Homo sapiens: one gene and its partners. The protein of the gene in region 4 purifies or fractionates together with the protein of the main gene of each other region. This does not show direct contact. Each region holds a gene or a part of one and is shown on either strand. Other genes may lie near its edges.

The links.
Region 1: the proteins of SBF1 (region 4) and IFT52 purify together in Homo sapiens (affinity purification with mass spectrometry, with the first as the bait; one large-scale study listed by BioGRID). This does not show direct contact.
Region 2: the proteins of SBF1 (region 4) and UQCC2 purify together in Homo sapiens (affinity purification with mass spectrometry, with the first as the bait; one large-scale study listed by BioGRID). This does not show direct contact.
Region 3: the proteins of SBF1 (region 4) and CTTNBP2NL purify together in Homo sapiens (affinity purification with mass spectrometry, with the first as the bait; one large-scale study listed by BioGRID). This does not show direct contact.
Region 5: the proteins of SBF1 (region 4) and RAB35 purify together in Homo sapiens (affinity purification with mass spectrometry, with the first as the bait; one large-scale study listed by BioGRID). This does not show direct contact.
Region 6: the proteins of SBF1 (region 4) and ACIN1 purify together in Homo sapiens (affinity purification with mass spectrometry, with the first as the bait; one large-scale study listed by BioGRID). This does not show direct contact.
Region 7: the proteins of SBF1 (region 4) and PTGES3L purify together in Homo sapiens (affinity purification with mass spectrometry, with the first as the bait; one large-scale study listed by BioGRID). This does not show direct contact.

Annotation. Positions count from the first base shown.
Region 1 is NC_000020.11:43,593,937-43,598,366, forward strand, and holds part of IFT52 (intraflagellar transport protein 52 homolog), read left to right. Parts: intron 1-756; 5' UTR 757-762; coding exon 763-881; intron 882-2,498; coding exon 2,499-2,586; intron 2,587-4,430. UniProt on the Homo sapiens protein: Involved in ciliogenesis as part of a complex involved in intraflagellar transport (IFT), the bi-directional movement of particles required for the assembly, maintenance and functioning of primary cilia. Required for the anterograde transport of IFT88.
Region 2 is NC_000006.12:33,704,271-33,708,700, reverse strand, and holds part of UQCC2 (ubiquinol-cytochrome c reductase complex assembly factor 2), read left to right. Parts: intron 1-4,430.
Region 3 is NC_000001.11:112,402,415-112,406,844, forward strand, and holds part of CTTNBP2NL (CTTNBP2 N-terminal-like protein), read left to right. Parts: intron 1-4,430. UniProt on the Homo sapiens protein: Regulates lamellipodial actin dynamics in a CTTN-dependent manner. Associates with core striatin-interacting phosphatase and kinase (STRIPAK) complex to form CTTNBP2NL-STRIPAK complexes.
Region 4 is NC_000022.11:50,460,644-50,465,073, reverse strand, and holds part of SBF1 (myotubularin-related protein 5), read left to right. Parts: coding exon 1-73; intron 74-156; coding exon 157-255; intron 256-335; coding exon 336-540; intron 541-632; coding exon 633-745; intron 746-1,641; coding exon 1,642-1,791; intron 1,792-2,135; coding exon 2,136-2,204; intron 2,205-2,356; coding exon 2,357-2,515; intron 2,516-2,600; coding exon 2,601-2,869; intron 2,870-2,954; coding exon 2,955-3,127; intron 3,128-3,204; coding exon 3,205-3,278; intron 3,279-3,355; coding exon 3,356-3,551; intron 3,552-3,787; coding exon 3,788-3,915; intron 3,916-4,361; coding exon 4,362-4,430. UniProt on the Homo sapiens protein: Acts as an adapter for the phosphatase MTMR2 to regulate MTMR2 catalytic activity and subcellular location. Promotes the exchange of GDP to GTP, converting inactive GDP-bound Rab proteins into their active GTP-bound form.
Region 5 is NC_000012.12:120,096,489-120,099,995, forward strand, and holds part of RAB35 (ras-related protein Rab-35), read right to left. Parts: intron 2,667-3,507; coding exon 2,542-2,666; intron 2,448-2,541; coding exon 2,323-2,447; intron 886-2,322; coding exon 757-885; 3' UTR 1-756. UniProt on the Homo sapiens protein: The small GTPases Rab are key regulators of intracellular membrane trafficking, from the formation of transport vesicles to their fusion with membranes.
Region 6 is NC_000014.9:23,081,421-23,085,850, forward strand, and holds part of ACIN1 (apoptotic chromatin condensation inducer in the nucleus), read right to left. Parts: intron 795-4,430; exon of another isoform or gene 417-794; coding exon 328-416; exon of another isoform or gene 1-327.
Region 7 is NC_000017.11:42,969,401-42,973,830, forward strand, and holds part of PTGES3L (putative protein PTGES3L), read right to left. Parts: intron 2,297-4,430; coding exon 2,207-2,296; intron 943-2,206; coding exon 889-942; intron 1-888. Other genes in the region: PTGES3L-AARSD1 protein, read right to left, coding at 889-942, 2,207-2,296.

The DNA of each region.
Region 1 (4,430 bases), on a different chromosome or scaffold from region 4:
GGTGAAACAGGTGTTTCAGAATAATGCATATGGTAAGATCCTATTTCATAAAATAAAACTGTAAGTTAATATATGTATAAAAAGAATCTCGAGCTGGGTGCAGTGGCTCACACCTGTAATCCCAGCACTTTGGGAGGCCAAGGCAGGTGGATCATGAGGTCAGGAGTTTGAGACCAGCCTGACCAACATGGTGAAACCCCGTCTCTACTGAAAATACAAAAATTAGCTGGGCATGGTGACACGTGCCTGTAATCCTGGCAACTCAGGAGGCTGAGGCAGGAGAATCGCTTGAACCCGGGAGATGGAGGTTGCAGTGAGCCAAGATCACACCATTGCACTCCAACCTGGGAGACAGAGCAAGACTCCGTCTCAAAAAAAAGAAAAATAGAATCTAGAAGACTATACCCTGCGCTTAACAGTAGTTAGCAGTAATGAATCAGGATGGAAACATGGTCTTGGGACACAAGAGCAGGGTGATGGCAGGGCAGAGCCATAGGTGTAGGCTGTTGGGAGGATCTGGGCAAGAGGCAGAAAGCAAAAGCGGGTAGGGGAGGGCTGGGTTGGTTTTGGTCTTAGGTTTCTGTGCTATGCTTTTGCATTTCACTCTCAACCTTTGAGAATTGTAGGAGTTTCCTAGATAGGTTTCAGTTGTATACCCTTTCTTGATAAATTAGTAGTAGAAGGCAACTATTTATTACTTTTAGGGTCTTTGGAATATTGTTTATTGATTTTCTGATCCCATCTTTCTTCCATAAGGTAACCATGGAGAAAGAGCTGCGGAGCACCATTCTTTTCAATGCCTACAAAAAGGAGATATTTACCACCAACAATGGCTACAAATCCATGCAGAAAAAACTTCGGAGTAATTGGAAGATTCAGAGGTGACTGACCATGTATATTGTTTTCCCTTCTAAATGATATTGTCCTGCTGATAAAGCTGAGAAGTCTTTATTTTCTTAGGTAACATAGATTGTTTAGGTGGGAGAAGCTCAATTTAAAGATTATTCAGAATTAGGTCTGGCGTGGTGGCTCACACCTGTAATCCCAGCAGTTTGGGAGGCTGAGGCGGGCGGATCACGAGGTCAAGAGATCAAGACTGGCCGGCACGGTGGCTGACACCTGTAATCCCAGCACTTTGGGAGGCCAAGGCGGGTGGATCATGAGGTCATGGGTTCGAGACAAGCCTGGACAAGATGGTGAAACCCCATCGCTACTAAAAATTAAAAAAAAAATTAGCGAAGTGTGGTGGTGGGCGCCTGTAATCCCAGCTCCTTGGGAGGCTGAAGCAGAGAATTGCTTGAACCCGGGAGGCAGAGGTTGCAGTGAGCCGAGATTGTGCCACTGCGCTCCAGCCTGGGCAACAGAGTGAGACTCCGTCTCAAAAAAAAAAAAAAAAAAAAAAGAAAGATCAAGACCATCCTGGCCAACATGGCGAAACCCTGTCTCTACTAAAAATACAAAAATCAGCTGGGCATGATCGTGCGTGCCTATGGTCCCAGCTGCTCGGGAGGCTGAGGCAGGAGAATCGCTTAAATCCAGGAGGCGGAGGTTACAGTAAGCCGAGATTGCGCCACTGCACTCCAGCTTGGTGACAGAGCGAGACTCTGTCTAAAAAAATAAAAAAACATTATTCAGAATGAAATAAATTCTTATTAAAACGTCTCTTGGGCAGGACGCGGTGGCTCATGCCTGTAATCCCAGCACTTTGGGAGGCTGAAGCAGGCAGATCACTAGAGGTCAAGAGTTGGCGACCAGCCTGGCCTACATGGCAAAACCTCATCTCTACTGAAAATACAAAAATTAGCCAGACATGATGGTGCATGCCTATAATCCCAGCTACTAAGGAGGCTGAGGCACAAGAATCCCTTGAACCCAGGAAGTGAATGCCTGCAGTGAGCCGAGATCATGCCACTGCACTCCAGCCTGGGAAACAGAGGGAGACTCTGTCAAAAACAAAAATTAAAAAAAAAATGTCTTTCGAAATCAGCAATTAGGATATTATTAAAGCAGCATATTATTAAGTTGTTTTCCAAATCACAAGCCAAAAGATTATTCTAATTATACACATGTAGCTTTTTAAGATGTTAGAGGCTTTCTTCATATTTTGACTCAGGTCAGTACTAGGGAAAGGAAACATGAGAATTAAATGAGAATAACTTTGTGTATGTGCATGTTTTTCTTAATAGGTGAGGATATGTAATCATACAAGCTAATGGTAGGGCTGATTGAATTAGTAGTTGCAGACTTCCTTATGCTTTAGCATGGCTTGATTTGAACACCTTGACTTACTGGAAGTATTTGAACAGAGGCCAGATGACTCTGGGGCAGGCCTGTAGAGGGAATTCTCACTTTGGGAGAGAGACTGGACCAGTTACCTCTAAATCCCTTCATCTCTGAGCCTCTGTGGCCTCTGCTTCCAAATAGTTAAGAGACTAAAATAATACATAAATTGGTTTAAATTATGGACTTCATATTTGCTTTTAAAATTGTATTTCCAGCTTAAAAGATGAAATCACATCTGAGAAGTTAAATGGAGTGAAACTGTGGATTACAGCTGGGCCAAGGGAAAAATTTACTGCAGCTGAGGTAAGAAATATCCACTAAAGAAGGAATATGGTGAAATGATTAGGAGTCTGAGCTTTGAAATACCGGATTTGAATCCCCCTTCACCACTTACTGTGTGGCCTTAAGGTAGTCACTTCATCTCTCTTTTCATCATGGAGTTGTGATGATTAACTGAGATACTCCATGTAAAGTACCAAACACATAGTGTGGGCCAATTAAATATTAGCCACACTTCTTTTTTTTTTTTTTTTTTTTTTTGAGACAGAGTCTCGCTCTGTCGCCGAGGCTGGAGTGCAGTGGCGCAATCTCGGCTCACTGCAACCTCCACCTCCCGGGTTCAAGCAATTCTCACTGCCTCAGCCTCCTGAGTAGCTGGGACTACAGGTGCCCACCACCACGCCCGGCTAATTTTTGTATTTTTGGTGCAGATGGGGTCTCACCATATTGGCCAGGCTGGTCTCAAACTCCTGACCTTGTGATCTGCCTACCTCAGCCTCCCAAAGTGCTGGGATTACAGGTGTGAGCCACCGAGCCCAGCCAGTAGCCACATTTCTTTGCTATATTTTTGCTTTGAAAATAGGAAAATTCCGCCAGGCGCGGTGGCTCACACCTGTAATCCCAACACTTTGGGAGGCCGAGGCAGGCAGATCACCTGAGGTCGGGAGTTCAAGACCACCCTGACCAACATGGAGAAACCCCGTCTCTACTAAAAATACAAAATTAGCCAGGCGTGGTGGCGCATTCCTGTAATCCCAGCTACATGAGAGGCTGAGGCAGGAGAATCGCTTGAACCTGGGAGGCGGAGCTTGCTGTGTGCCAAGATCGCGCCATCTCACTCCAGCCTGGGCAACAAGAGCAAAACTCCATCTCAAAAAAAAAAAAAGAAAGAAAATAGGAATTCATTTAAAATAAAAGTGTTTATTATTCTAGTTCATGGAATGGATAAAGAATGATAAATGTAAGGCCCAGAATACAAATGACAAGTATTGGTGAGAATGGGAAGTTATTGGAACCCTTCCACACTGATGGTGGGAATGTAAAATGATGCAGTCACCATGAAAAACAGTATGGTAGTTCCTCAAAAATTTAAGCATAAAATTGCCATATGATGGCTGTGTGTGGTGGCCCACGCCTGTAATCCCAGCACTTTGGGAGGCTGAGAAGGGTGGATCACTTGAGGTCAGGAGTTCGAGACTAGCCTGGCCAACATGGTGAAACCTCATCTCTACTAAAAATACAAAAATTAGCCGGGCGTGATGGTGTGCGCCTGTAATCCCAACTACTTGGGAGGCTGAGGCAGGAGAATCACTTGAACCTGGGAGGCGGAGTTGCAGCGAGCAGAGATCGGGCCACTGCACTCCAGCGTTGGCAACAGAGTGAGACTCTTTCAAAAAAAAAAAAAAAAAAAAACTGCCATATGATCTAGCAATTCCACTTCTGGGTATATGCCCAAAAGAATGGAAAACCAGATCTCAGAGATAGTTGCACACCTATCTTCCTAGCAGCGCTATTCACAATAGCCAAAAGGTGGAAATAGCCCAAGTATCCATCGGCAGATGAGTAGATAAGATATGGTATATACATACAATGGAATATTATTCAATCTTAAATAGGAAGGTAATTCTGATACATGCTACACATGGATGAATCTTGAGGACATTATGCCAAACGAAAATAAGGCAGACACAAAAAGACAAATACTGTATGATTTCACTTATGCAAGCATGAGGTACGTAGAGTAGTCGAATTCGTAGAGACAGAAAATAGAAGGGTGGTGGTTGCCAGGGCCTGGGGGAGGTGGGGAATGGAGCGTTGCTGCTTAATAGGTATAGAGTTTCAGTTTTGCAAGATGAAAACAGTTCTGC
Region 2 (4,430 bases), on a different chromosome or scaffold from region 4:
GCAGCAGGAGGTGGGGCTTAGATCCAGTTGACTGACTAGTATGGAGCTCCTCCTTGGTTAAGCCGGTTGCCAGAAGACAGAACTGGAGGGGAAAGTAGCTCTGCTCATGCCGTCTTTCCATTTCCGTAGAGGAGAGAGGCAGTCAGTCCTCCTCTCAGCCTCTTGGCTTCCTTCGTCCTAATGATCACCCTGAAAGGTGCACAGTGCACCTTTGCCGGCGTGATCTCATTTAATCCTTAGTACAGCTGAGTGGTAGCCATTACTGTTCCCATTTTACAGATGAGGAAACATCAGAAAAACAAGACAACGCACTGGGGGTTCCGTAGCCATAAGAGACAAGCCAAGTGAGAAACAGACCCAGCCCCTCTGGCCCTAGTGTGCATCGTCTCCTGGGTGCCTGGCCTTTCCTCAGCTGCTGTTCCAAGTTATTGTTAGAACAACCTCTTATTCCATGAACGTCAAACCACTTCCTTCCCCTGGTTGCCCGTTCAAACCTTTTTGGGCCATAGATAGTTTGGGCAGCAAATGGAACTCCCTGTGTTTACCCACCTATTCTTTGCCCCAGCCACTACCAGTCCAGATGGGAAGAAAGATGGTCCTGGGTGGGACACCAGGCGGAGAAAAGCTGGGTTAACTAAAGGGCAAATCAATAATTCATACACAAAACCAGAGTACAAAAACCACTGCCTCCATTTATTCCACCTCAAATTGCCCTCTGGGGAGTCTTGTGGTCCACCCTAAACCCACCAAGTGGGGAGGTGGTGGTGGGAGCGGGAACACATGTAACTCCTCTTACACCCCATATCCTATTGTGTAGTTTTAAAAAGTCAGTGTTTATGGGCTTTGCCAATTTTGAATACAGTTTGTCTAAGAACACGTGTTTCCTACAGCGCTGAGAGCTTAATAAAAGAATTGCAACGTGGGGGAAGGTGGCACAACAAATGTAATTGTTGACCTAACAACAGAGAAAGGAGCAGATCTTTCTAATGAGTTCATTAGGTGCTTCCTAAAAGATCCCGGACTGCACACCAGCACCCACTTATGTAGCACAAGGTGCAACTCCGAGGGGCGTCCTAGAAGAGCTGCTGCTCTTCGCCCACCAGGGAGTTCTAACTGTATTGTATGCAAGTTTAAGTATAATAATATTGGCCCAGTTTGAAAGAAGTTAAACTTTTTCTTGGGTTTCTAATAAGGTAAATGGTATTTCCACCTTCTCAGAGGAGAATTCAAAGGTTTTTTTGATTCTGTTTTCTCAGTCATCCATTTGAGGCCTGGTCCTTGGCATTCCTCAGTGTGGCAGGGAGCTAGCTCCCAAGCCACCTGGCATATGCTGGCCACGGTGAAGCCATCTCAACGTTGCTCACCCCCACTTGTGGGCCCCCTGAAGTTATGCTTTTGAAGAGTGTCCTAAGAACAGATTATCCTATTTTTAATTATGTATTGAGCCCATCGAAAACCTGGAGTTGTAAGGAGAATCATCTCTAAGAGGGAATACAAACATCTCCATCTTTTTTTCTCTCCCAATTCTGAATGGCGCCAGTGTGAGCTAGGGTAGTATTCACACCAAGGGGTGGCGTTTATCTCTGCATATGTAAAGCTGCAGTGCTCCACCTGAAGGGATAAATTCTTGGCCACTTCTGGTGGGTCACTACTTTATTCAAAGATGTTTGGGGTCTGCCCATTGCCTCCTGGGCAGGTGGCAGGCAACTTTGTGAGACCTGCAGTGCCTCTGATCCTTGGTCCCAGCCTGTGTTTCCAACCTTGCCTCGCACCACCCTAACATGAGCCCCAGGCTCAGCAAGGGTGTCTTCTCATGGTCTCCCAAACTGGCCATGGTACAAGCAATTCTGATCCTTTGAGACTTAAGTGCGCTGTGGATCACTGCACCCCTACAACCGCAAAAAACCCAAACACAGAGTTTGTCAAGAATTTGGTGGCTTCCCAGGCTCTTGGAGCCCTCCCTGGGTTCCCCTTAAAAGCCCTGTCTGCCTAAAACACTCTTGTCCTGTGCCTCTTCATGCCTCATCCTCCCAGTCATTTCTGGTCCCTGTGTCACTCATGCCCAGGTTGGCACTCCTCACTCTCTGCACTGTCGCTGCAGTGAAACTCAGCCCTTTCCTGCCACACCTCCCCATCAGCACAGCCAGGTGCCCAACTCCCACCTCGGGTCTCGTGCAGCGGCCCGTGCTCCGCAGATCTGGCTCTCACTTACACATTGCCCCGGGCAGGGTTGGTTTCTAATTCATGTGTATCTTGTCTCTGTAGTGTGCCTGCCAGCTTCTCCACAGCTGGCCTGGGTCGTCGTCTTTGTGGCCCCTCACCGTCCCCTAGTGGAGCACTCTTTCTATAGTAGGTGCTCAAGAAATACATTTTCAACTCAATTGAAGGGAATAGGCTCCCATAACAGAATGAACTCATTTCAGAAGTTCATTACCAAGTCTTGAAAACCTTTTTTTATAGATCCTCCTGGACCGAATCCAGCTCTACCTTAATTAGCAAAGCAATTTGCAACACCCTTTCCCAAAAGTGCTTATGCGTCCCTTTGTGTGACTAGAATAGGGGCCGCTGTACCAATTGCTGTCACCACCCAAAATTCAATTTGCAAAATCGAAATCAGTGCCTGCAGCACTGATGTAGATTTGTATGTATAAAAGTTTAATATGGTAAAGAGAAATTTACTGACGACTGAACAGGGGAAATGCAAAAGGAGCAAAAATAGAGCTATAAAGGACACTCGTCAGATGAACATCTATTTTATTCACATTTGGGGAGCAGTGCTGAATTTTTCATAATGTCCCCACTGCTGCCTTTTCAAACCCAGCACTGCTATTAGTCCTAAAACGTCTGTGATCTCATTAGGTGTGAATGCAAAATCAGGTAATTTAAAGCATGTATTAAGAATATTTCTAAAAATGCACCGTCCATTTCATCAGAAAAACTGCATTTCAGAGCTCAGGAATGTTAGTGCTGGAGTCTGTGAATAAAGTGTAAGCTATAGGAACGTGGTGAGGCTTCTGGAATTCGACAGATGTCTCCACTGACATCCTTTTAAGTAGTAAGCATGACTTTTTTAATTGCTGAGCTTGAGTTATCTGTGGCTAGGAACCCAGCATTGACCAAGGCTTCATCACTCCTCAAGCAGTAAGAACTTGGCTAGAAATGGGCATGTCTCAAACTCCTGTCACCTCCACTGAGCTGCTTTTACAGCCTCAGTTAGACACCTTCTGACCTCAGACGGGAAACTGGATGGCAAGTCTGTTTTAGGACTCAGGTGTTTGGTTTTCTTTCTCAGGTTACAGCTGAGTCCAGGAATTCTGGGAACTCTCTAGGAGACTGTCTCTTTCACACAGGAAGTTTCAGAAGTGAGAGTGGTCGGGTGCGGTGGCTCAAGCCTGTAATCCCAGCACTTTGGGAGGCCGAGGTGGGCGGATCACAAGGTCAGGAGATTGAGACCATCCTGGCTAACACGGTGAAACCCCATCTCTACTAAAAATACAAAAAATTAGCCAGGCGTGGTAGCGGGCGCCTATAGTTCCAGCTACTTGGGAGGCTGAGGCAGGAGAATGGCATGAACCCGGGAGGCGGAGCTTGCAGTGAGCCAAGATTGTGCCAGTGCACTCCAGCCTGGGCGACAGAGTGAGACTCCATCTAAAAAAAAAAAAAAAAAGAAGTGAGAGTACCTGAGGGTCACTTTGCTTTTTGCACTTAGACTTTGTACATTTTGCTCTTATAGGAGCAGCACTCTGCAAGGGTGACCCGCCCCCCATGCCCCTCCTGTCTGTCCTGCTGCTCATCAGGGATGGGACTACGTGGCAAGGAAGGACAGCACCTTATACCACACCTGCTTGAGGGTGTGATACAAGGTTGCTGAGCAACCTACTGGTGACTTCTCACTGCTAGAGAAGTTGGAGCAGGAAGGGAACTTGAGTTGAAAGGTATTTGAGGGTGGGGATCTGGTCAGAATGCAGGTTTATCAGGAAGCAGTGTTAGGAGCCCAGGAGAGAGGCAGAGGCTATGGGAGGAAGGCAGATCAGCTTGTGGACTCCTTTCCTAAGAGCTTGGTTGGGAAGGTGGTGGGGATGGTGGCAGGACGGGAAGGTCCAGATAAGCGGCCATCAGGTGAAGACCAGGTACAGCAAACAGCTGCTCTCTCGGCAGACCATGGAGAGCTCAGTGACTGCTGAGAGCCACCAGGGTCAGTCAGGAGTGAAGCCTCAGCAGTTTTTCATCCTTCCTCACTTCCGTTTCCAGCGCCACCCTCGGCAGTGCACACCAGCCATGCTGATCCACTGGTAACATGCTGACCCATTCCCTGGGCACGGGCTCCACCTGGTCCTGTGCCTGGAGCACCCCACTCCCTTGCCGGTACATGCGCCCATCCTCAGCCACTCATTGTCCAGCACTTCCTGCCTGGCCCCATAGGCCCATAG
Region 3 (4,430 bases), on a different chromosome or scaffold from region 4:
TCTCAAAAAAAAGAAAAGTGAGAGCCAGGGAAGGAGAACAGAAAGTAGAAGCAGGGATAAATTGTTTTAACACGAGATAAGAATTGTAAGTTATAATGGAGAGAAGGATGAAAGATAACTGACAGGTAAGTTATAGGAAAAAGAAAGAAGCACAAACTGGGTTTTTTGTTGGAGAATGGGGGCTCCAGGGAGGCCCTCATTACTTGGTTTCTGCTAAATAGTCCTTTCTGTTACAGCAGGTGCTACAGAAGTAACAACAGAACCAATCTAGTTCTTAACTGACTTAATGTTTGAGGGTATAACAATGATCTGGTCTAGCCCTATATATCAGTTTCATCTTGTTGCCTCTTGTCCTTAAATTGAGGGCACAGAATAAATTTCCTTAAAAGGCTCTATCCCCAAAGACTTCTTCACTTCTAAACCCTTAGCCATCACCACACTAACAGACTCTTAACACGTTCCTCTTGGGGGTCAAATAACTTCTCATTCAGCCTGTCTCGTATCACAGTCATCATTTCCCCAGTAAACCCAGTTCCATTTCTAACATCCCTGTTTTTGCTAATGGTATCATCATTCTAGTCACCCAGTCTCAAAACCTCAGCTGATCTGGGATTATTTCCCCTCTTACCTCCCTAAATGAAAATCCGTCATTTACTGTAAGTAAATTCTTAAATAACTAAGTAAATTCTTTTTAATGTCTCTTTTGTCAGTCTCTTCCATTCTTATTGCTACCATCCTAGTTCATACATTTTTGCCTCATACCTATGCTGTTAAATTTTTTTCCCGACTACTCTTTCTGTTTCCATTTTCTCTTCAGTCAAGTCAGCCCTGTACTGTAAGCATTAACTTTCCTAAAACTATGCTTTTGTTATGATTTTCACCAGGTTAAAAATGTTGAGTGGCTTCCCATTTTCTAAAAGGTAAAGTCCAGTTGTGTTGGCTGAGATTGAAAGTGCTGTACATTTCTTTCCAACCAGCATTTTTTCAGTATCTGAACCAGACACTGCTAGTGCTAAGTGTGATCAAGTTGAATAGACAGAGTAGTTGTTCAGATGAGTTCAGAGTCTTGTGAGACAGAAGACAGATATGTAAACAGATGAATTGATGTAATAGAATGTGATAACTGCTCTTGAATTACGAATGTAGATACATATCCATTATGCATTTAATTTAATGTAAAAAAATAGCTGTGATATTTTCAGGAAACCCATTTCTCAGTCATCACAAGTTAAAGTTGTGACTTGATTAAAACCTGTTAAAATTCAGTGGAAGCAAAGGTATGCGTTTACCTGTATGCTAAAGGCACAAAAAACTAATCTAAGCAGAAGGCTGGCCTTTTCTTTTCCCAAGTATTGTGCAGATACAATTGGCTTGAACATGTCTCTAAACTGACTTTCCCAGGAACTGGCCAGGCCATCTCTTTCTTTTTGGTGCAGATCAACCTGCCAGAAGTCAGAAGTAAACTTGTTTTGGTTTGTAAATTAGACACGTGAATGATAGACAATGATGACCCATTGGAAAAGGAAAACTTCATTATCCTTGCAGATGAAACCAAAAAGTATGCTCTTTAAGGATGAGAAATGAGAAGCTGACCAGTCACTAACTCATTTAAACCATGCAGCCTCCTGTTACAGTATGTATTGTTATGTCCATTTTATAGCTAAAAAACTGAAGTTCAAAGGTTAAATGGATGAAAGAGCAAGTGGCAGAGCCAGGATGCAAACTCAGCTCTGTCAGATTCCAAAATCCATGTGCTTTCCACTATAACATACTGTCTCCCAGCAGAATTACTGTCCCTGAAGAACCATAGAACAACAATTGCCAGGCTTGTTGTTGGAAATATTCAACTGATACTCAATTGTTAAATTTTTTTTAAGTCAGTTATCTGTCTTAGAAGACAAAACAACATCACGAGTTTTATTTCTGCTAGAGGATTATTTGAAGTTTTTTTTGCAGTTCAGATAAAGTCAGGTTATGGGCATCGCTAAAACACAGATTCCTTAACTGTTTGATGGTTAATCCTTCATACCATACTCTGGAGTTTCTCCCCAGTGTGGAATCTTAGTGGAATCAATGACGTCATCATCCTACATTAGCATTTGAAGGGTTTGCATTCCAGGCTGCCTCTAGAATTGTGGCCCATGAATCATCTTACTGAAAATAATCAATCTACATGTTATTGTTCCCTTGTGGTATTTTACAAGTTATGGTGGCATTATTTCAGAAAAGCAAAAATTTAGGGGACTGATGGACAGATAGACAATAGAGACGGTCAGATACATATTTGATTGAAATCATGTTACAATTTCATTTAAATGAAATAAAGCCATCTAACAAATTATATAGAAATGATTCAGCCGGGTGCAGTGGCTCACGCCTGTAATTCCAGCACTTTGGGAGGCCGAGGTGGGCGGGTCACTTGAGGTCAGGAGTGCCAGACCAGCTTGACCAAAATGGAGGAACCCCGTCTCTACTAAAAATACAAAATTAGCCAGGCATGGTGGCACAAGCCTGTAATCCCAGCTACTTGGGAGTCTGAGGCAGGGGAATCTCTTGAACCAGGAGGCGGAGGTTGCGGTGAGGCCGAGGTTGCGGTGAGCCGAGGTTGCGCCATTGCACTCCAGGCTGGGCAACAAGAGCAAAACTCCATCTCAAAAAAAACAAACAAAAAAAATGTAATGTTTCAGTTTCCTGGTAATAATATTCTGATGTTAAAAGACATATCTTTTTTAAAATGTTCAATGATAAAAAATTTATTAATATAAAAGTTGTTATTCATTTTCATTAACATCCATTCCAGTAGCTTAACTAATGTAGTTCTAGTTTGGCCTTGTCTCAGATGAGAATACCTGAGATGGTGTAAACAGATATCCAGGTAGACAGACCTTTTGTTCTTGTTTTGAGATAGAGTCTTGCTCTGTCTCCCAGGCTGTAGTGCAGTGGTGCAATCTCAGCTCACTGCAACCTCCACCTCCTGGGTTCAAGCGATTCTCTTTCCTCAGCCACCTGAGAAGCTGGGATCACAGGTGTGCGCCACCATGCCCGGCTAATTTTTGTATTTTTAGTAGAGATGGGGTTTCACCATGTTGGCCAGGCTGGTCTTGAACTCTTTATCTCAGGTGATCTGCCTGCCTCGGCATTCCAAAGTGCTGGGATTACATGCGTGAGCCGCTGCACCCAGCCCAGACCTGTTTTTAATAGCTTTGCACTAATGTTCTCATTTGAGGGAAGAGATATCTGAATGTTTGTTTATGGGCATAAGGCTACTTCCTTCTTTTCTTCAATATACATATAAATCTTGCTGACATCATATATGAGAGACAGAGAAAGAGATGTGTACACACACACACTTACACATTCACACATTCACACTCACAGAGAGATATAGCAGAGTTGCATGAGTCTTAGAACTAAACAAAACAAAAACCTGATACCTATTATGTTGTCCCAGAAAGCGAATTAAACTGGATCTTAAAAAGACATGTATGCGGCCGGGCGCAGTGGCTCACGCCTGTAATCCCAGCACTTTGGGAGGCCGAGGCAGGTGGATCACGAGGTCAGGGGTTCGAGACCAGCCTGACCAACATGGTGAAACCCTGTCTCTACTAAAAATAGAAAAATTAGCTGGGCGTGGTGGTGGGCACCTGTAATCCCAGCTACTTAGGAGGCTGAGGCAGGAGAATTGCTTGAACCTGGGAGGCGGAGGTTGCAGTGAGCCGAGATCGCGCCATTGCACTCCAGCCTGGGTGACAAAGTGAGACTCCGTCTCAAAAAAAAAAAAACGTGTGCTAGACCTAGTTCTATTTAACTGTATTCACATTAACAACTCTGGCCTCAGTACTCATCTGTAGAATGAGAGTGCTGAATTAGATTATTGCTGAGGCTCCTTCCAGCTTTGTGAATCGTTGTTTAGCTGAGGTTTTTCCACCATACAATTCCTAAGGCTGATAAAATGAGAGGATCAGATGTAAGCAGTGGTTACCAAGGGAGTCTCTGGAGTCAATTTACCTGGGTTCACATCCCATTTCTACCACATACTAGCTGTGAGGCTTTGAGCAAGTTTTTTAGCCTCTATGCCTCAGGTTTCTCATCTGTTAAATGAGGAGGATGATGATAATGATGAATTTGTTGGGGATGGTTATAGCATATCACCTAAGGTTGTTGTGAAGACTGAATTAGTTAATACCTGTACATGTCAAGTACTTAGAACACTGTCTGGCATACATTAATGTTTAGCTCAATAAATGTTTATCTTTTTTTCATTATTACTATTATTGTTTAAATTCTTCTTAGAAAACTGCTATAGAACTCTGAAGTGGTGGTGATTATTGCTGATAGTATATCATAATTAATTTCTCTATTAAGCATAGATCCAGATAATCTGGTAACCTGGAATCTGCTTTAATGTAAATAGAGCACTATGTATTTGA
Region 4 (4,430 bases):
GGAGGGCATGGCCTTTGCTGGCTTTGTGTCAGAGCGTGGGGTCCCATACCGCCCTACGGACCTGTTCGATGAGGTGCACCTCCACCCTGCCCTCCCAGCCCCCTGCCCTGGCTCCGCCTGACCATGGCTTACCTAACCTCCTGCTTACCCCGCTAGCTGGTGGCCCACGAGGTGGCAAGGATGCGGGCGGATGAGAACCACCCCCAGCGTGTCCTGCGTCACGTCCAGGAACTGGCAGAGCAGCTCTACAAGAACGTACGAGGGTAGCAGGACGGGAGGGCGTCGTACCGCCTTGATCCCTGGGCCCCTGCCCCACACCTGCCGTCTCCCCACAGGAGAACCCGTACCCAGCCGTGGCGATGCACAAGGTACAGAGGCCCGGTGAGAGCAGCCACCTGCGACGGGTGCCCCGACCCTTCCCCCGGCTGGATGAGGGCACCGTGCAGTGGATCGTGGACCAGGCTGCAGCCAAGATGCAGGGTGCACCCCCAGCTGTGAAGGCCGAGAGGAGGACCACCGTGCCCTCAGGGCCCCCCATGAGTGCGTAATGAGGGAGGGGAAGGCAGGCCCCGAGCGTGGCCCAGGATGGGCGTGGGGTCAGGGGTCCGAGTGTGTGTATTCTGTCCCCGCAGCTGCCATACTGGAGCGGTGCAGTGGGCTGCATGTCAACAGCGCCCGGCGGCTGGAGGTTGTGCGCAACTGCATCTCCTACGTGTTTGAGGGGAAAATGCTTGAGGCCAAGAAGGTGAGGGCTGTGCAGGCTCCAGCCGGGCCAGGGCAGCGGGTTTCAGAGGAGACCCAGGCTGCACTTCACCCTTGTGAGTGCTGACGCTGCCCCAGGGCCTCCTCTGCCTAACAGACAGCTAGAGGTGGCTGGGCTGGCCGGAGGGTAGGTGGGCTCCAGGTCTCCTCTCTTGACCTCAGTGAGGGGTGGGTCGGGCCTGCGCGGGAGACCCAGCCAGGGAGATGTACTTCCATTTTTAGAAATCAGAAGGTTTCACTATTATGTTTCGTCTGTGTCCTTCCCCTTAAATTGGGTAGGCCCATACACGACCTGTTCTTTGTACTTGATGGAAAACAGAGCTTGCTCCCTCCATACGTGACCTGTTCCTTGCATCTTATGGAAACAGAGCTTTTTGCTCCTGCTGTTTTGCTCTCTGTGGTGCTCACTTAACGCCTCTGGGGTCTTTCATCATGGCCAGTTGGAGACTCTTGTTTTTCATTGGCTGTATGGTGTCCCTTTGGGGCGGCCAGTTTTGTGATGAACGTTGTAGCAATAGAACGCAAACTCCAAGGCTTTCTGTGGCCGGGCCTGTGCCAGGCGAGTCACTGAGCCAGCCAGGCAGCTGTGAGCCTGTGAGCAAGGGGGCCCGGCCCGCAAGGCCTCCCTCCGGAGCGCACCTCCCTGCCAGCTCACAGGTGCAGCATCTGCGTCCTTGTGTCTGGCCTGGTGAACTTGTACTTGTGGAGTTGTCGGGCCCACTGGAGGTTTTAGTCTTTATTGGTCGGCAAAGCCCCAGAGTCTGGCACACCCCACCTGAAAGGCATTTGGGTCTCCTGGACACCTGCTGCCCTCCCTGCCAGGGCCCCGAGTGGGTCTTCTCTGTGCCCTCAGCCCGTGTCTCCTTTCCCCACCCCCAGCTGCTCCCAGCCGTGTTGAGGGCCCTGAAGGGGCGAGCTGCCCGCCGCTGCCTCGCCCAGGAGCTGCACCTGCATGTGCAGCAGAACCGTGCGGTCCTGGACCACCAGCAGTTTGACTTTGTCGTCCGTATGATGAACTGCTGCCTGCAGGTGAGGCCTCTTATCCTGCTAGTGACATGGCTCATGGCGCATGAGCGGGAACAGGCGGGCAGACCCTGGTCTGTGAGTGAGAGTGGAGAGACGGTGCAAGAGACTCCTGTGCCAGTGGGCAGGGGTCCTCGGTCTGCAGGGAACAGGGTGGAGAGAACCATTGTTGGGGGCAGGTGCTGGGGCCTGGGGTCTCCTGATATTGAGCCTCTGAGGCAGCCTTGGGGAGCTGGAGCCAAGGGTGTCAGGTGCTGGTCTGTGGTGGTTATGGGGTGGTGGGGGCATGGTGGGAGGTGAGTGCTGCCTGGGAGGGGAGAGGTCCTGACGGTCTCTCGCTCTACCTGCAGGACTGCACTTCTCTGGACGAGCATGGCATTGCGGCGGCTCTGCTGCCTCTGGTCACAGCCTTCTGCCGGGTGAGTGCTGGCATGGCTGAGGTCTCCTTCCCAGCCCCCCCTTCCTGGTGGCTGAGGTCTCCTTCCCAGCCCCCCTTCCTGGTGGCCGAGGTCTCCTTCCCAGCCGCCCTTCCTGGCTGCATCCAGCTGACCTTCTCCCCTGGCTCCTGCAGAAGCTGAGCCCGGGGGTGACGCAGTTTGCATACAGCTGTGTGCAGGAGCACGTGGTGTGGAGCACGCCACAGTTCTGGGAGGCCATGTTCTATGGGGATGTGCAGACTCACATCCGGGCCCTCTACCTGGAGCCCACGGAGGACCTGGCCCCCGCCCAGGTGCGCAGGGACTCCCTGGGCTGGGGGCTGGGGGCTAGGGGCTGGGGCAGCGTGGCCCCGGCTCATGCGTGTGGTGCCGTGGCAGGAGGTTGGGGAGGCACCTTCCCAGGAGGACGAGCGCTCTGCCCTAGACGTGGCTTCTGAGCAGCGGCGCTTGTGGCCAACTCTGAGTCGTGAGAAGCAGCAGGAGCTGGTGCAGAAGGAGGAGAGCACGGTGTTCAGCCAGGCCATCCACTATGCCAACCGCATGAGCTACCTCCTCCTGCCCCTGGACAGCAGCAAGAGCCGCCTACTTCGGGAGCGTGCCGGGCTGGGCGACCTGGAGAGCGCCAGCAACAGCCTGGTCACCAACAGGTGAGGCAGGGACTGGGGGTTGGGCCCAGTGGAGGCGGGGCCGTGGTGGGCAGGGCCCATGCCCACAGTTTCTTCTCTGGCCCAGCATGGCTGGCAGTGTGGCCGAGAGCTATGACACGGAGAGCGGCTTCGAGGATGCAGAGACCTGCGACGTAGCTGGGGCTGTGGTCCGCTTCATCAACCGCTTTGTGGACAAGGTCTGCACGGAGAGTGGGGTCACCAGCGACCACCTCAAGGGGCTGCATGTCATGGTGCCAGGTACGGGGGTTTGGGCTGGTGATTCCCCCTTGGATGGGTGGGGCTGGGCACAAAGTGTGAGAACTGTCTTCCCCCAGACATTGTCCAGATGCACATCGAGACCCTGGAGGCCGTGCAGCGGGAGAGCCGGAGGCTGCCGCCCATCCAGAAGGTTTGCGGGGGCCGTTGGGGCTGCGGGGGCCCAAGGCCCGGGCTGCATCCTGAGCTCCTGCTCTTGTTTTCGAGCAGCCCAAGCTGCTGCGGCCGCGCCTGCTGCCGGGTGAGGAGTGTGTGCTGGACGGCCTGCGCGTCTACCTGCTGCCGGATGGGCGTGAGGAGGGCGCGGGGGGCAGTGCTGGGGGACCAGCATTGCTCCCAGCTGAGGGCGCCGTCTTCCTCACCACGTACCGGGTCATCTTCACGGGGATGCCCACGGACCCCCTGGGTGAGCCTGCAGACTCTCTGGCCCTGTCGCCCCCTCTCCCCCAGGTCTTTGGGATGGATGGGCTTTCCCTGCCTCCCTCTCCCTTTTCTCGGGGGTTCTGGGTGCCCGTGGGAAACGGGCCTTTGTCTGCTCCTTCCCCACCCACTTGGGATTCCCCATAACTGTGGTACCCTGAGATTCTGGGACCCCCCCCCCCTTACCTTCCTTGCTTCTGACTCTGCCTGGCCTGTCCTAAGTTGGGGAGCAGGTGGTGGTCCGCTCCTTCCCGGTGGCTGCGCTGACCAAGGAGAAGCGCATCAGCGTCCAGACCCCTGTGGACCAGCTCCTGCAGGACGGGCTCCAGCTGCGCTCCTGCACATTCCAGGTGGGGCGCGGTGCGCGGGTGGGGCTCTCATCCCCCGCCCTGGTCTTTCTCCTGCAAACCGGTCTTTCTTGTATGAACCATTTTTAGGCCAGTCTCCAGCAGTGGCCCTGTTGTTACGCTTGCATGTCTGGGGCCCTCACTGTGGCTCTTGAGTTGATGTCCACTGTTTGATGTGCGGTCTTTGGGTCCTTGTCCTTTCCTTGGGGCGCCGGCCCTCAAGTCCGTGTCTTGGGTGTGCCTTGCAAACCCAGGCCTCAGCTCACAGCCACTGAGATTTCGAGTTTACACAAGCGCTTGCCTTCGTGTGACACAGATACAGGCCTTTGCCTGGGGCCTGCTTCTCTCTCTGTCATGGCTGCGAGGGGAAGGGGAGCCTGGCAGTGTCAGAGTTGGGGGAGGGGCTGGGGGGCCACCCACACCCCTAAGGGCTGCTTTTACTGACACAGCTGCTGAAAATGGCCTTTGACGAGGAGGTGGGGTCTGACAGCGCCGAGCTCTTCCGTAAGCAGCTGCAT
Region 5 (3,507 bases), on a different chromosome or scaffold from region 4:
TGAAACCTGTTGGTGTAAATGAGAAGCCATGGCTGCCCTGGGTTTGGAGCTCAGAGGCATCTAGAAGGCAGGACAAGAAATCTGTTGGCCAAAGGGCAAGACCTGCCACCTCTGTGGAACTGCAGGGCCTGCCTTGAGACCAGGTTCCCCAGCTCCCAGAATGGCTGTGGGGACAGGACAACGGGGAGGGAAGGGAGCTGGCACAGGCCCCGGAGAAGGGGCAAGACCCTGTGCAGCGGGGACAGAGGCTGACAACCTGTCGGAGAGAATGAGCAACGCGGAGCCCACTCCACTGGCACGGGCTGGCCGCAGACGCAGCTAGAACGTGCCGCTGTCTCCTCAGGACGCTGCTTGCAGTAAGATGGGCTGGGGAGGGGCGCGGGGAGGGTCTGTTGCAGCAGGCTGGCATCAAGAAGGCAAAAGCCAGAGCAGGACGTGGTGTGCGGCCGGGTAGAGCAATATACACTATGTACAGACTCTGCGAATCAGTCCGCTCGGCGGGCAGCGTCCTCGCCAGGTCCAGGCGCCTTGGCCGGGGAGGAGGGGGCACCAGTAGGGAAGGGCGGGCTGGTCCAACACCTTCTTGGCACTCGAGGAGGGCGGGGGAGGAAGTGCCGATGGCACCTCCCGATACAAAAACATGGAGAGAATTCTTTAAATAACGGCACGAAACTGAGACTGTCCCCCGAGGAACCTCCGTGGGCCTCGGGCTGGGGGAGGGACCGCAGTGCAGTCTCTGCAGTGGACTGGGTGCCATTAGCAGCAGCGTTTCTTTCGTTTACTGTTCTTCGTGAGCTTCACCACATCGTTCTGTTGTTGCTGCTGCTGTTTTGCCAGGTTGTCTTTCTTTGCTCGGAGGACCAGCTCCGTGATGCAGTTGAACATCTGTGGAGAGGAAAGAGGAAGGGCCCGCCTCAGACCTGGCCAGGAGGCCCCTGCTGGCCTGCACGGCTGCCTCCCCGCCTTCCGGGGCCCAGCTCTTTCTACCTGTGCATTTTTGGTATGTATGTCTTCAAAGCCTATTCTAGAAGGAGGTGGTGAATTATTTTATTTAAAGGTCAAAAAGGAACAACATTGCTAAAACCCCACCTCTACAAAAAACACAAAAATTAGCCGGGAGTGGTGGTGCACACCTGTAGTCCCAGCTACTTGAGAAGCTAAGGTGGGAGGATTACTTGAGCCCAGGAGATCGAGACTACAGTGGGCTGTGAACACACCACTGCACTCCAGCCTGGATGACAGAGTTAGACCCTGACTCAACAAATAAATAAGTCTGAAAAAAGGAACACCATCAGAGGCCCATGAGCTGTGTGGACTTGGGGAAGTCAATCTCACAGGGGTTTTCCAGTCCTTCTTTTAGAGAGACCAACCCCTTTCCTTCAGCTGGAATCTTTTTTTTTTTTTTTTTTTTGTGAGATGGAGTCTCGCTCTGTCGCCCAGGCTGGAGTGCAGTGGCGTGATCTCAGCTCACTGCAAACTCTGCCTCCCTGGTTCACACCATTCTCCTGCCTCAGCCTCCCGAGTAGCTGGGACTACAGGCGCCCACCACCACGCCCGGCTAATTTTTTTGTATTTTTAGTAGAGACAGGGTTCCACCATGTTAGCCAGGATGGTCTCGATCTCCTGACCTCGTGATCCGCCCGCCTCGGCCTCCCAAAGCACTGAGATTACAGGCGTGAGCCGGCGCGCCCGGCCCAGCTGGAATCTTATGACATGACAGATGAAAGTGCCCCTGCTGTTCACGGACATAGGTGACCCGGGGTCTGCCTGCTCCACGCCACTTCATGGCATGTGGGGCCCAGAGAGGTGAAGTCACCGCCCAAGGTCATACCAGCCTTGCCCACAGGCCCAGGTGGATGGGCCAGCATCAGGACACCAGCCTGACTTACAAAGGAGCCTGTGCCCGCTGCTGTGTGGCCCCTGTGCCCTGAAGCAGTGGGATCCTCGACTTCCACAGGCCTCTGGGCTCCACACAGCACAAGGCGGCCAATGAGGCAGAGGACTGGAGTGGAAACTGTGCTTGGCTTTGGTGTGGGACAGAGGTTTACTCAGTCTCTTACTAGCCAGGTGGTGGTCCTTGAGTTACTTCAACACTTGGAGCCTCAGTTTCCCTATTTGAAATGTGGGTATAATTGTACCTACCTCAGAGGACTGTTGAACTATGAACTAAGATCGTTAAAGGGCCTGGCACATAGTAGGCACTCAATAAATGGCAGTTACTATGACATTTTCTGTTGGTCATTTAGATGCCTCAAGCAGGCCAGCAGCATGGAGAAGGCGGCCACGGGTGTGTGGCAGAGCCACAGTGGCCCAGGGCCTCACCTCTTCCACGTTGACATTCTCCTTGGCGCTGGTCTCGAACAACTGGATGCCCATCTGCCCGGCGAATTTGTAGGCATCTTCCGTCTCCACCACCTTCCGCTCAGGGTCGTCATTCTTATTACCCACTTCAAACGAAGGCAGAGTCAGCGCAGCCCTGAGGGGCGCAGCCGGCTGCCTCTCTCCCACCCAACCCCGACCCGGCCCTGAGTGCAGCCTCACCTAATATTCGGCACACATCATCACAGTTCTGGTTGATTTCGTGAAGCCACCGCTTGACGTTGACAAAGGACTCGGCACTGGTGACGTCGTAAACCACAATGACCCCGTGGGTCCCCCGATAATACCTGCAGGGCCAGAGTGTGCGGCAGCATGTCAACCCCGACAGGAGTCACCCCCTTGCCGGGACCCACCTGCCCACGTCAGGACACTGACCCGGAAAAGGTGAGGGTGGCCCTGGAGCCTGGGCTCTCACTCAGCCTCGGCAGATGCCCCCGAGCCACAACAGGCCAGCAGGAGAGGCTACTGCGGCAGCACTGACTCCCCCTGCCCGCCCGGGGCACCAACAGGGCGGGAGGGCCAGCCCCTGGGCAGCAGAGCAGGTCTGAGGAGTCACCTCCTGCTGTTCAGAGTCTGCTGCAGGCTTGAAACATCTTTGAAGTTCTTGCTTTATTTTGGGAAATCAGGCAGTTTTTGTATTTGACATCATGTTATCACTGTCTTTGAACATTCAAAAAAATATTTGCTCCTCAAACCTGTTTTAGAGAACCTTTCCAAGAAGCCACACCATCATGACGCCCTGGCAAAGTCTGTGCCCCTCCCCTGGGGCAGGTAGGCACCTCCCTTCCTGCTACTCTTGGCTCATCTGTGCAGGTGGCAGGAAAAGCATGGAAGCCACACAAGCATCCAGGGATGGCTGGGGAGAGGGCGCCCAGCAAAGCCATCACCCCAAACATGCAGAGCCCAGGGCCAGCCAGGAAGGCCAGAAGGAAGGGGAGGCCCAACTCTCCTCTCCAGACCCCATGTCCCCATTCATCCCAGTGGCACAGGACGACATCAATCCCCGGAGGAGGAGGGGGACCACAGCCTCCGCTTCCCCGAGAGCTGTCGAAGAGCCGGAGGCCAGGCGGCAGCCCCGCCCCACACTGTGCAATCAGCCAGAGCTGTCCCTCTGTCCCCTCTCCCCAA
Region 6 (4,430 bases), on a different chromosome or scaffold from region 4:
AGACAAAACGAACAACAAAAAGATGACAAAGAGGAGAAGGAAGATAACCACAAAGAAATCTAGAGGCCAGGCAGTGGCTCATGCCTGTAATCCCAATCCTTTGGGAGGCTGAGGTGGAAGGACTGCTTAAGCCTAGGAGGTCGAGGCTGTAGTAAGCTGTGATTGTGCCACTGCACTCCAGCCTAGGCGACAGAGCCAGACTCTGTCCCAAAAAAGAAAAACAAAACCCCTAAATGTAGAGACATACAAACTCAAAACAAGTCTGAAGAAGAGAAGATATCCAAAGCATTACTGAAGAGGTAATGCTTTAGGAGGTATCTGAGTTACCTGTCTGACCCTAGATGATCGTCTTTCTCCTTTCCTTGGTTTCTCATCATCAGAGTCACCTTTCTCTTCAGAAATTGAGGAGCTTTTTCCTATTGAATGAAAAAGAATCAAGTCAGATTCATGAAGTGAAGACTCATTCATGGCTTTTTAAAAATCAGGCTTTCTAATATCCAACCAATTATAGCATATGAGCCTATCAAGACATATCTGTATCGGTTTCTTTGACTTCTACACTAAAGAAAAGACTACAAAAAGCCCTAACTAGGTCAGGGTCTTATTGGTAATTCTTGGTGTGCAAGTCTAGAATATTTTCAACACCTCGAAGCCAATTCACATGTTATAAATAACTCAAATAAATGTAAAATAATTTCCAGGGGCTTCAAACTGTCTAGCAGGGATGTACAAATATGAAGTGTACTTATTTCTACAAAGTGTTCTTACTCTGAATAAAGTTTAAGACTTCATTATGTTCTGTATCCATTTTTTTGGATTGCCTATTACTACTACTTTCTAATTTCAACCAAAATATTATGATGAAATATATGAATTTGCACAATAACAAACTCAAGAAATAAATACTTAGAGGAATGTTTTTCAGCGCCCTAAAGTTCCTGAAATTACTTCAAGCCAACTGGATGGGGTTTCAGAATTGGGTCCTGTCTATTAGGTTTTATGTATTAGAGCTCAATATTTTTTTTTTTTTTTTTTTTTTTTCTGAGATGGAGTCTCACTCTGTCACCCAGGCTGGATGCAGTGGTGCAATCTCGCCTCACTGCGACCTCTGCCCCCTGGCTTCAAACCAGTCTCATGCCTCAGCCTCCTGAGTAGCTGGGATTACAGGTGCCCACCACCATGCCTGGCTAATTTTTGTATTTTTAGTAGATATGGGGTTTCATCCTGTTGGACAGGCTGGTCTCAAACTCCTGACCTCAAGTGATCTGCCCGCCTTGGCCTCCCAAAGTGCTGGGATTACAGGCATGAGCTCACATGTTTTTCTTTTTTTTTTTTTGAGACAGAGTTTTGCTCTTGTTGCCCAGGATGGAGTGCAATGGCATGATCTAGGCTCACCACAACCTCCGCCTCCCAGGTTCAAGCGATTCTCCTGCTTCAGCCTACCGGGCAGCTGGGACTGCAGGCGCACGCCACCATACCTGGCTAATTTCGGTATTTTTTACAGAGGCGGGGTTTCATCATGTTGCCTAGGCTGGTTCGAACTCCTGGGCTCAAGCAATCCCCCCGCCTTGGCCTCCCAAAGTGCTGGAATTACAGGCGTGAGTCACCGCACCCGGACTAGGTGAGATTTTTTTTTTTTTTAAGGAAAAAAAAAGTTCTATTAAAAAGCTTGGAAACCACCAATCTAGGTTATCCTGAACAATAAATCCATGTAAAACGGAAAGAAAGTTTCACTCAAATTCCATGAAGGAAGGTAACTGGGTAAATCACTTAAGTAATTTGGGTCTCAATATCTTTCTTTTTAGACAGTGTTTTACTCTGTCACCCAGGCTGGAGTGCAGTGGCATGATCATGGCTCACTGCAGCCTCAGCCTCCAGGGCTCAAGTAATCCTCCCACCCCGGTCCTCCCAAAGTGCTGAGATTAAGGTATAAACCACTGTGCCCGAGTCTCAAATGTCATGATTGAGAAAAAGGAGGGGCTGCACTAGATGATTTCCAAATTTCCTACCAGAATTAAGATCAACTAGGCGGCCGGGCACGGTGGCTCACGCCTGTAATCCTAGCACTTTGAGAGGTCGAGGCAGGCGGATCACGACGTCAGGAGATCGAGACCATCCTGGCTAACATGGTGAAACCCTGTCTCTACTAAAAATACAAAAAATTAGCCAGGCGTGGCGGCAGGTGCCTGTAGTCCCAGCTACTCAGGAGGCTGAGGCAGAATGGCGTGAACCTGGGAGGCGGAGCTTGCAGTGAGTCGAGATCGCGCCACTGCACTCCAGCCTGGGCGACAGAGCGAGACTCCGTCTCAAAAAAACAAAAAAGATCAACTATGTACAGTAGCAATACTAACATCAATGAGAACCAGTTTAGAAAATAGCAGGAAGATAATTATATTCCAGATACTTGATCAGCTAGATTGGACTCAATGTTAATACAGTACAAAAGGTTCTGTACACAAAACCATGTTGTATAGTAATAGTGCAAATAAAGCAGATGGTATGCAGCTCTAACCCAAGATCTTCTCTCTTATTTTTTTTTTTTTCTGAGAGAGAGTCTTGCTCGTTGCCCAGGCTGGAGTGCAATGGCACGATTTCGGTTCACTGCAACCTCCGCCTCCTGGGTTCAAGTGATTCTCCTGCCTCAGCCTCCTGAGTAACTGGGACTACAGGCGCCCGCCACCACGCCTGGTTAACTTTTGTATTTTTAGTAGAGACGGGGTTTTGCCACGTTGGCCAGGCTGGTCTCGAACTCCTGACCTTGTCATCCTCCCCCTCCTTGGCCTCCCAAAGTGCTGGGATTACAGGTGTAAGCCACCATGCCCGGCCTTCTCTATTTCTATATCCTTACAATCTAAAATGAACTAGGCGAATGCTTCTGTAATAATAATTAAAAAATCAAAATGAGGCTGGGCACGGTGGCTCATGCCTGTAATCTCAGCACATTGAGAGGCCGAGGCGGGCAGATCACGAGGTCGGGAGTTTGAGATTAGCCTGGCCAATTAGGTAAAACCTCATCTCTACTAAAAATACAAAAAAAATTTTAGCTGGGCGTGGTGGCGTACGCCTGCAGTCCCAGCTACTCAGGGGGCTGAGGCAGAAGAATCGCTTGAACCTGGGAGGCAGAGGTTGTAGTGAGCCGAGATGGCGCTATTGCACTCCAGCCTGGGCGACAGAGCGAGACTCCATCTCAAAAAAGAAAAAAAAAAAAAAAAACCCAAAATGAAACTAATGAAATCAATTAGAAGACTACACATATTTTGTAAAACTTTACTTCATGATCATTTGATTAAAAGGACCTCTGAGTATATACCATTTCGTATCTGGGTAAGTGAAGAAAGATTTGTGTTATGGTTGTTCATACAGGATATATGATTAGAATATATAGTGAAAGGCCAGACTCTTTAGCAAACATTTGAAGACATCTGTAAGACAGTAGTGCAGTGAAATGAAATACTCATTTCATAATTCAGTGATCTGAAATAGGCTAAGTTATAAAATAAGTAAAACCAAAATAAAAAGTTTTCATAAATGTTAGGCAAAGTTCCTTCACAAGTATCAGTGAAAGAAGCTGATTTATCTCACACACACCAAAAAAAAAAGGCAAGTGCAAGGTTGGTCAGAGATAAATGTGTTAAAGTCAACGCTGGGCGCAGTGGCTCACGCCTGTAATCCCAGCACTTTGGGAGGCCGAGGTGGGCGATCACGAGGTCAGGAGATTAAGACCATGGTGAAACCCCGTCTCTACTAAAAATACAAAAAAAAAAATTAGTCGGGTGTGGGGGCGGGTGCCTGCAGTCCCAGCTACTTGGGATGCTGAGGCAGGAGAACGGCGTGAACCTGGAAGGCAGAGCTTGCAGTGAGCAGAGATCGCGCCACTGCACTCCAGCCTGGGCGACAGAGCGAGACTCCATCTCAAAAAACAACAACAACAAGAACAACAACAACAAAGTCAAATAACTGAGTTGCAATTTTAAAATTAGTATGTACAAGCAAAACAGCCTCTTTATCTACCTACTGTGAATTATATGCTATTTATTGAATTATAATGTTATTTTTGATACTGTAAAACTGCAGTGATAGGATTTCTGGATGATTACTCCTCTGGAAGAACTTGTAGTAAGTCATCAAAGAGATCTGGAGAAATGAACAGGGCTGTTCAGAAAGTTCTGGTCATCACTGTTTTGCAATAAAAGCAGAAACTGGAGGCGCCTCAGACATGAAACAAGAAATTAGTCAGCAATGCAAAATATAAAGAGATGAGGAATCTCTAGTTCCTTGGAAAGAGCTGATGTGATGCAGACAAACTTCTGAAAAAGGTGATATCTTCTATTATAAGAACATGGCCACAATGAATGTCTTAGGCCAGATGTTAGTAACACGTGTAGACAGTGAGCGCTTTAGCTAAGGGTGGAGCTGATACTGATAACAGG
Region 7 (4,430 bases), on a different chromosome or scaffold from region 4:
CTTTTTTTTTTTTTTTTTTTTTTTTTGAGACAGGGTCTTGCTTCATCACCCAGCTGCAGTGCAGTGGCATGATCTCAGCTCAGTGCAACCTCTGCCTCACAGTCTCAAGCGATCCTCCCACCTCAGCCACTTGAGTAGCTGGGATTATAGGCTACTGTGCCTGGCTAATTTTTGTACTTTTGGTAGAGACAGGGTTTTGCCCTGTTGCCCAGGCTGGTCTCAAACTGCTGAGCACAAGTGATCCACCTGCCTTGGCCTCTCAAAGTGCTGGGATTACAGGCGTGAGCCACCACACCCACCCTAGTTTCAGAATTTTAATTAATGCTATTGCTCCTTACAGCTGGGGTAGGTCTTCTCTAGGATGGAGAAACAGAGGGGTAGATGGAAAGCAGGAGGGTCTTGCTAGGGTTTTCTAAAGCCTGGAGAAGAATATTAGCCTTCTTGGGCCAGGCGTGGTGGCTCACGCCTGTAATCCCAATACTTTGGGAGGCCGAGGCGGGTGGATCACCTCAGGCCAGGAGTTCGAGACCAGCCTGGCTAACATGGCAAAACCCTGTCTCTACTAAAAATACAAAAATTAGCTGGGCGTGGTGGCAGGCACCTATATTCCCAGCTACTCAGGAGTCTGAGGCAGGAGAATCTCTTGAACCCAGGAGGCAGAGGTTGCAGTGAGCCAAGATCGGGCCACTGCACTCCAACCTGGGCGAAAGAGTGAAACTCCTCCCCCACCCCCCAAAAAAAGAATATTAGCCCTCTTGGGTCAAACTCAAATTTGGTTAACAGGCACTGAGAACTACTGTGTGCTAGGAACTGGGATAGGAGCTCTCTAGTGGGTTGTTTTTAAGGGCTACAAAGAAACTGAAGGGTTGAGGGGAAGGCTTTACTTACATCCAAATCATCCATGGCAGGTGGAGGTCTCTTGGTGCTGACCTTCTTCAAAAGCTAGTGGGAAGAAAAAATAATCACAAGGGAGAAGGGAGTGAAGGAAGAACAATCTGCACATTGATGGTCCATAGAAGAATGGTTGCAGCCAGAACTGGTCAGGCAACTGCTCCCATCTTTAAAACATCACTGGAATTAATTTGAGAAAAGTAAATTGATCCCCTTCTTAAAAGAAAATTTAACACAAATCCAGATTGGAGTCGGCTAGTGTTTTTATAACTGAAACCAAATAATATAACGACAGTGTGTGATTTACTGGGGGCCAATTATTTATGATGTGAGTTTTTATACTGCTAGTTTTAACATCCCATGAAGTTGTCTGGCTTAACACGCGCACACACACACACACACACACACACACACACACACACACACAGAGGCCGGGTTTGGTGGCTCACATTTGTAATGTGAGCACTTTGGGAGGCTGAGACAGACAGATCACTTGAGGCCAGGAGTTCCAGACCAGCCTGGCCAACATGATGAAACCCCATCTCTACCAAAAATACAAAAAAAAATTAGCCAGGGGTGGTGGCGCATGCCTGTAATCCCAGCTACTCAGGTGGCTGAGGCACAAGAATCACTTGAACCTGGGAAGTGGAGGTTGCAGGGAGCTACTGCACTCCAGCCTGGGAGACAGAGCAAGACTCTGTCTCAAAAAGAAAACCACACACACAGGCCAGGCATGGTGACTTACGCCTGTAATCCCACCACTTGGGAGGGTGAGGCAGGTGGATCACCTGAGGTCAGGAATTTGAGACCAGCCTGGCCAACATGGTGAAACTCCGTCTCTACTAAAAAAATACAAAAATTATCCAGAAGTGGTGGTGGGCACCTGTAATCCCAGCTACTCAGGAGGATGAGACAAAATTGCTTGAACCCAGAGGCAGAGGTTGCAGTGAGCTGAGATCGCGCCATTGCACTCCAGCCTAGGCGACAGAAAACCACACACACACACACACACACAGAAAACAGTAGAACAAGAATTACAGAAAAGTGGAAAAACGTTTTGTCAAACTTCTTCAGAATACAGGCTCTACACTGAATAAGTGAATCAATGTATATAATTTCAATAATATTCTTTCCTCTCATCCCTATTAAATAAACATTGCACAAAATACGTAAAGAATATCAGCATCAATGAGTAACCTGCCTAGAGAGCTTGCATATCTCTGCTTGGCCCCAGTGACAATCCTCCAGAGACATGTGTGCAGAGAAACACAAAGAATGATCAAGTGGGCAGAACACAGTAGGTGTTGTCTCTCACCTCTGCATAATGTTCCACATGAGCCAGCTCCATCTCTTCATCCCCTTCCCAGTCTCTCCAGTTATCAAAGTCCACAGACAGCCACACTGGCTGCAAGAAGAGGCACCAAGAGTCACAGGCCAGGAGGGCAGGAGCAGGAGTGTGTGGGAGAGTGTGGGCATATGCATGGGAGCACGCCTGGGGAAAAGAGGGTCAGTAGGTCCCTAGTCCTCCCAACTGCACTCCTTTGACCAGGAACCTGCCAATCTACACACAAAGCTAGGCATGATAGAGTCTGAAAATCTCAGAAGTCCTACCCTCCGGCCAGGCGTGGTGGCTCATGCCTGTAATCTCAGCACTTTGGAAGGCCGAGGCAGGAGGATCACAAGGTCAGGAGTTCGAGACCAGCCTGGCCAATATGGTGAAACCTCGTCTCTAGTAAAAATACAAAAATTATCCGGGCGTGGTGACGGGCACCTGTAGTCCCAGCTACTCGGGAGGCTGAGGCAGGAGAATTGCTTGAGCCTGGGAGGCGGAGGTCGCAGTGAGCCAAGATCGTGCCACTGCACCCCAGCCTGGGTGACAGAGCAAGACTGCATCTCAAAAAAAAAAAAAAAAAAAAAAAGAAGTCCCACCCTCCAGGAGCCGATTGACTGAGGAGACAACACATCTGGAAAGATAATTGTATCATAAAGCAACATAGGCATTATGCCCTCTCTCTCTCCCTCTCCCTCTCCCCCTCCCCCTCCCCCTCCCCATGGTCTCCCTCTCTTTCCACGGTCTCCCTCTCATGCGGAGCCGAAGCTGGACTGTACTGCTGCCATCTCGGCTCACTGCAACCTCCCTGCCTGATTCTCCTGCCTCAGCCTGCCGAGTGCCTGCGATTGCAGGCACGCACCGCCACGCCTGACTGGTTTTGGTGGAGACGGGGTTTCGCTGTGTTGGCTGGGCCGGTCTCCAGCCCCTAACCGCGAGTGATCCGCCAGCCTCGGCCTCCCGAGGTGCCGGGATTGCAGACGGAGTCTCGTTCACTCAGTGCTCAATGGTGCCCAGGCTGGAGTGCAGTGGCATGATCTCGGCTCGCTACAACCTACACCTCCCAGCCGCCTGCCTTGGCCTCCCAAAGTGCTGAGATTGCAGCCTCTGCCCGGCCGCCACCCCGTCTGGGAAGTGAGGAGTGTCTCTGCCTGGCCGCCCATCGTCTGGGATGTGAGGAGCCCCTCTGCCTGGCTGCCCAGTCTGGAAAGTGAGGAGCGTCTCCGCCCGGCCGCCATCCCATCTAGGAAGTGAGGAGCGCCTCTTCCCGGCCGCCATCACATCTAGGAAGTGATGAGCGTCTCTGCCCGGCCACCCATCGTCTGAGATGTGGGGAGCACCTCTGCCCCGCTGCCCCATCTGGGATGTGAGGAGCGCCTCTGCCCGGCCGCGACCCCGTCTGGGAGGTGAGGAGCGTCTCTGCCCGGCCGCCCCGTCTGAGAAGTGAGGAGACCCTCTGCCTGGCAACCACCCCGTCTGAGAAGTGAGGAGCCTCTCCGCCCGGCAGCCACCCCATCTGGGAAGTGAGGAGCGTCTCTGCCCAGCAGCCACCCCATCCGGGAGGGAGGTGGGGGGGGGTCAGCCCCCCGCCCGGCCAGCCGCCCCGTCCGGGAGGGAGGTGGGGGGGTCAGCCCCCCGCCCGGCCAGCCGCCCCGTCCGGGAGGTGAGGGGCGCCTCTGCCCGGCGGCCCCTACTGGGAAGTGAAGAGCCCCTCCGCCCGGCCAGCCGCCCCGTCCGGGAGGGAAGTGGGGGGGGTCAGCCCCCTGCCCGGCCAGCCGCCCCGTCCGGGAGGTGAGGGGCGCCTCTGCCCGGCCGCCCCTACTGGGAAGTGAGGAGCCCCTCTGCCTGGCCACCACCCCGTCTGGGAGGTGTGCCCAACAGCTCACTGAGAACGGGCCAGGATGACAATGGCGGCTTTGTGGAATAGAAAGGCGGAAAAGGTGGGGAAAAGATTGAGAAATCGGATGGTTGCCGTGTCTGTGTAGAAAGAAGTAGACATGGGAGACTTTTCATTTTGTTCTGCACTAAGAAAAATTCTTCTGCCTTGGGATCCTGTTGATCTGTGACCTTACCCCCAACCCTGTGCTCTCTGAAACATGTGCTGTGTCCACTCAGGGTTAAATGGGTTAAGGGCGGTGCAAGATGTGCTTTGTTAAACAGATGCTTGAAGGCAGCATGCTCGTTAAGAGTCATCACCACTCCCTAATCT